2 separate regions of the Homo sapiens genome follow, and region 2 is linked to region 1. A link means that fine-mapping ties the variant in region 1 to the expression of a gene that starts in the linked region. Tissue or cell type: whole blood. Region 1 holds a variant in brackets; the other region holds the start of a gene. All regions are shown on one strand. Distances are between the middles of the regions.

Region 1 (2,908 bases):
ACCAGTCCTTTACCTTCCTGAGAACTTCCTTTACCGCAACAAATTCTTATCAGCTTTCTCTAACTACTATACCTCTGGCCCATTACAAGTACTGCTTTCTGCAGCCCCTCACCCTAGCTAAAACCCCCTGGAATGATATTCTAGCTCTCCGAGAGTGTGCCTCACTTTTCCTTTCAGCCCTTTCCTCTCAGACACTTCCTACATCAACACAACTGCTCTGCCAATTGTAGGATTTTCCCTTGCTTGTCAGATGACCCTGAAAAGGGCATGTGAAGTCGTGTGAGGCACATTTCCTGTGCTTGGGATGCATGCAGCCCACAGGATGACAGTCCCACACATAGCCCTCTAATAGCCCATGGTACGTGCTGTACTAGTGGAGTGAAGCAAATGCTTTGGGAGAACTGAGAAAGAGGGATAAATTTAGCCGATAGGAGCTGAGGAAGGCTTCCCAAGGGCTGTGGCAGTGGAGCTGGGCTTTGAAGGGTGAGCAGAGTTTCTTTTTTTTTAAGATGGAGTTTCGCTCTTGTCGCCCGGGGCTAGAGTGCAATGGTGTGATCTCGGCTCACTGCAACCTCCGGCTCCCAGGTTCAAGCAATTCTCCTGCCTCAGCCTCCCAAGTAGTTGGGATTACAGGCATGCGCCACTACGCCCGGCTAATTTTTTATTTTTGGTAGAGACGGGATTTCTCTGTGTTGGTCAGGCTGGTCTTGAACTCCTGACCTCAGGTGATCCACCTGCCTCGGCCTCCCAAAGTGCTGGGATTACAGGCATGAGCCAGAGTTTCTTAGTAGAGAAAAGAACGAGAAGGAGATCTAGCCTTTGGAAAAGCTGTCAGTCATTTAAAAAAATCATGCTCCTCTTGGTAAATATAAGGTGTTCTCATTTAGCACCCTGATTGCTGAGATTTGGATGTAGCTTCCTAATGGGGCGTGCATATCTCCTTTGAGAGTCACTCATTTATCAGAGCTGAAAGATGACTGTAGGTTATTATTTCTATAATCCATAATGAAATCAGAGAGTCCTCCCCTACCTTACACATTCACACAAACCGCTCTCCCGACTCTTCAGAGAGACCATGGGAGTGCAGAATCCTCCTGTGGCTGGTGTCAGGGACGTGGGCTTGTGCGCTAAATGGAAGCAGTTAAGACCTCAAGCCTGCATCTTTTGAGCTCGGGACCACAGCCTCCATGAGCCAGCAGCTTCCTTGTCTTTGCATAACTGCTATTTGTTTTTCATAGAGCGCTGACAATGCACGCTGCCCGACGTGTGAAGACATGGTCTTGCCCCTAGGCCTCTGGGAACCTGAGCTAGACAGACACTCAGCTCTGGGTGCAAACACAGCTCAAAAAACAGGCAGGCCGAGCCCTGAGGTGTCAAGCCTTTGTTCCCTTCTTTGGAGGAAAAAAAAATGAGCTAACTAAGTGACTTCTCTGGATAAGAGGGAAGCAGGAATCCTCTTAGAGCACAGGTACTAAAGAACGTCTAGGCATGGAGGAGGAAGACATGTAGAGAGGCAAGTA[G/A]GGAATGCAAGGGGAAGAAGACAGAGGGAGGGAGCCAGGCCCGGCAGGACTGTGAGGGAAGAGTGCCATCTGCTGAGCCCCCCGTGGGCACACAGGCACACCGCCACCCCCACCCCACCATGTCCCCTGGGCATGAAGCTCACGCACAGATGATCATCTAGATTCCATCTCCAAACATTTTGTTCTGCCACCACCCAACGACCCAGACTTATGTTCTCCCAAGACCAAGTCCCTGGACCTACACACAGTCCTCTCCCTCATGCAGTCTAGAATATTCAGCCGAATGCAAGAAGTCATGAGGTATAAACCACAGTGGGATTAGTAACTTCCCAATACCCATGGACCCAAACCAAGCTGAGCAGGTGCCTGTGGAGAAGGCTGGAAAGTCAAGGCAGCAACCATCGCTAAGGATGGTCTTCTTTAGGAGGCAGTAGGACATCGTGTAAGAGACTGTTCTTACTAGCCACGTGCTATGGACAAGCTGCTTGGCCTTTCTCCACCCCACATGCCTGTGGCTTCTGGAAGGGCTTAAATGAATAGCACCTGGAAAGAAAATGCCAGTGTGGGGCCTGGCACATGGTGGAGGTACCATCATTGCTCCTTCCAGAGAAGAAAGGCCATTTTTAATTAATTAATTAATTTATTTATTTAATTTATTATTATTATTTTTTGAGACAAAGTCTCACTCTGTCACCCGGGCTGGAGTGCAGTGGCGCGATCTCGGCTCACTGCAAGCTCCATCTCCTGGGTTCACGCCATTCTCCTGCCTCAGCCTCCTGAGTAGCTGGGACTACAGGCGCCCGCCACCACGCCCGGCTAATTTTTTGAATTTTTAGTAGAGACGGGGTTTCACCGTATTAGCCAGGATGGTCTTGATCTCCTGACCTCGTGATCTGCCCGCCTCAGCCTCCCAAAGTGCTGGGATTACAGGCGTGAGCCACCGCGCCCGGCCTATTTATTTATTTTTGAGACAGAGTCTCGTTCTGTCTCCTAGTCTGGAGTGTAATGTCGCAATCTTGGCTCACTGCAACCTCTGCCTCCTAAGTTCAAGCAATTCTCCTGCCTCAGCCTCCCAAGTAGCTGGGATTACAGGTGCCTGCCACTATGCCCAGCTAATTTTTTGTACTTTTAGTAGAGATGGGGTTTCACCATATTGGCTAGGCTAGTCTTGAACTCCTGACCTCAGGTGATCCACCTGCCTCAGCCTACAAAAGTGCTGGGATTATAGGCATGAGCCACCGCCCCCAGCCCATTTATTATTTAAAATGCGTGATGAGATTTAGAATTATAGAGAAAGACCCAGAAAAAGGAGAAAAGGATACATTTTCATTTTTCTTAGGAGCCGCAGATATGCTTGATTTGACATAGCTGTCACAGGGATTTTGCTC
Region 2 (2,908 bases), 16 kb before region 1:
AGGAATCTCAGCTTTACTCAATCTTTTTCCATATCCTGAGCCCGAGTTCAGACTTCATCCTCCCGGGTCCCCCATGTCCCTTCAACGTCTGATTAATTCTCCAGTCAACTCCCTGCTAATAGTCCACCCACAAATTGCTATTTCAGCTGACCTTCCCCAAAACTTGAGCATCCTTACCAAATACCTTGGGCTTCCTCATAACCTGGTTATCTTCTCATCTGCATGCCTTTCTGGAATAATTTTGAAGTATTAAAAAAAACTCCTCTAATTGTCAAGGGCATGCAGGAAGCTCAGCCCCTAAGGAGCATTGCAGAAATCTGGAGTTCTACTCTGTTTATACCTAAATCTAGCCTTCCAGGAGTTTCAGATAGTTTCCTGGAAACATTTTGTGCTTTGTGTTTTTCACCTTTCTCTCTTAATTGAATATGGGGTGAGGAGCAAGAAAGGGGATTGTGAATTACAATTACAAACAGTACACACATAACACAGGGACAATCTTTGCATTTCTCATTTCTGATCCCAGGGATCAGAGGTAGAGGCAGGCCAGGCGCGGTGGCTCACGCCTGTAATCCCAGCACTTTGGAGGCCGAGGCAGGCGGATCACGAGGTCAAGAGATAGAAACCATCCTGGCCAACATGGTGAAACCCCGTCTGTACTAAAAATATAAAAATTAGCTGGGCGTGGTGGCGCGCGCCTGTACTCCCAGCTACTCGGGAGGCTGAGGCAGCAGAATCGCTTGAGCCCGGGAGGCGGAGGTTGCATTGAGCAGAGATCACGCCACTGCACTCCCGCCTGGTGACAGAGGGAGACTCCGTCTCAAAATAAATAAATAAATAAATAAAAATTTAACAAAAAAAGGTAGAGGCAGCTCTCAGGTGAGTAAATTCGCAGATGCCCACGCATGTCTGGAACATACCCCAGGGGTCATTAGAGACTGCCCAGCAGAGGCGGGAGGATCTTCCGTTTGCTTTTCCTTCAGAACGTTTGTCCGGAGAGCATCCTGTTCTGTTATATGCATATCCACCTCCGTCTCCAAATTACTAGGTTGAGCACAGTGCTCAGTGCCTGGCATTGAGTTAGAAATAGAAAATGAGCTGGCGAGTCCCGGCCCGAGGCTGTGACAGGGGCCATTACTGAGCCCACTCCCCACCAACCTTTCTGCGGTTTAACTGACTCTCCTCCTTCCCCTCCAGATCCCAAGGGCTTGACTCCTACCTCCTCTAAGGCATTTTGAAAAGTTTGCAAATGCACCCTTGATCCTAGCACGTACTTAAGAAGCGGCTCCCCCCTAGAACGTCAGGCTTGAAGCTGACCCCTTCTTCCTCCTCCCGCGCCATTTGGGTCTGTGCGCAGGGCCGGAAGCCTGCTGGGGAGGGGCACGAGGCCGGGCTGGGGCCTCTCCGGAGGGAGCCCGCCGCCCCGCCCAGGGCGCACGCACCCAGCCTCTGAGGGAGGAAGCTGAATGGGGCCAGAGGCTGGCCCTCTTTGGGGATTTGCATTATACAGGCTGTATTTAGAAGCAGCGGCGGGGAGCGGTGGCTCACGCCTGTGATCCCAGCATTTTGGGGGGCCGAGGCGGGCAGATCACCTGAGGCCAGGAGTTCGAGACCAGCCTGTCAACATGGTGAAACTCCGTCTGTGCTAAAAATACAAAAAAAATTAGCCAGGCGTGGTGGCCGGAGCCTGCAGTCCCAGCTACTCGGGAGGCTGAGGCAGGAGAATCGCTTGAACCCGGGAGATGGAGCTTGCAGTGAGCCGAGATCACACCACTGCACTCCAGCCTGGGCAACTCAGCGAGACTCCGTCTCAAAAAACAAAACAAAACAAAACAAAACAAAAAACCAAGAAAAAGAGAATAAAAAAAAATAGAAGCAGCTTTCTTGCTGATAGAAAGCAATGACCCTCTCTGCTATAATTACAACTGAAGAGTCACTTTCTTTCAAAAACTCTATTTTCAGATGTTTACCACTTTCTTTAAAAAGGAAAAAAAATTTGCCTCAAAGGCAGGCAGTCCCCAGGGCATTTCTGGTCTCCTGGGGAAGGAACCTAAGAGCGGTTTGGTAAAATTCCATTTTGCTATCTTGGCGTTACCTAAGGGCAAGAACTGAGGTGGGGCTTTGGTGACAGCAGGGGCTGAAGAGTGCTCTTTTTCATCATCCAGGGTGTCCAATTGTTTTGTTTCCCTGGGCCACATTGGAAGAATTGTCTTGCCCCACACATAAAATACAGCAACACTAACAATGGCTGATACACTTTTAAAAAATCGCAAAGAAACTTCATATATATATATATATATATATATATTTTTTTTTTTTTTTTGAGTTTTGCTCTTGTCGCCGAGGCTGGAGTGCAACGGCACGATCTCGGCTCACCACAACCTCTGCCTCCCAGGTTCAAGTGATTCTCCTGCCTCAGTCTCCTGAGTAGCTGGGATTACAGGCATGCGCCACCAGGCCTGGTTAATTTTGCATTTTTAGTAGAGACGAGGTTTCTCCATGTTGGTCAGGCTGGTCTCAAACTCCTGACCTCAGGTGATCCACCTGCCTCGGCCTCCCAAAGTGCTGGGATTACAGGCGTGAGCCACCATGCCCAACCAAGAACTCATAATGTTTTAAGACAATTTACGAATTTGTTTTGGGCCGCGTTCAAAGCCGTCCTGGGCTGCACGGGGCCCACAGGCTGTGGGTTGGACAAGCTTGCTGGACTGTCATGAAGTTTTGAGTAGGTTAATTGCGTGGAGAGACCTGGAAGACAGGATCCTGGGTTGTACTGTACTCTCCCCGCCATTGGACCTGTGCTCCCTCCACCCAGGTGGCATCGCAGTGGCCAATGGAGAACAGAGCCAGACTGCCTCGGTGCAAATCCCAGGCTCCTAGTCCTGTGGACCACTTACTCCTTCGGTGAACT

Evidence for each region. PIP is the estimated chance that this variant, and not a neighbour inherited with it, causes the effect.
Region 2: it holds the start of NINJ2-AS1, and the variant in region 1 is fine-mapped to the expression of NINJ2-AS1 in whole blood (INTERVAL, PIP above 0.99).

Annotation. Positions count from the first base shown.
Region 1 is chr12:613,188-616,095 of GRCh38, reverse strand. All of the region lies in intron 1 of NINJ2 (ninjurin 2), which reads left to right. Among named protein-coding and RNA genes, the nearest start is that of NINJ2-AS1, 16 kb to the left of the region's middle. The variant G/A (reference allele first, on the strand shown) is at 1,521.
Region 2 is chr12:629,294-632,201 of GRCh38, reverse strand. NINJ2-AS1 (NINJ2 antisense RNA 1) reads right to left here and starts at 1,311. Exons shown (of 5, transcript NR_122124.1): 1 at 1,217-1,311. All of the region lies in intron 1 of NINJ2 (ninjurin 2), which reads left to right. RefSeq lists silencers at 1,286-1,385, 1,446-1,525.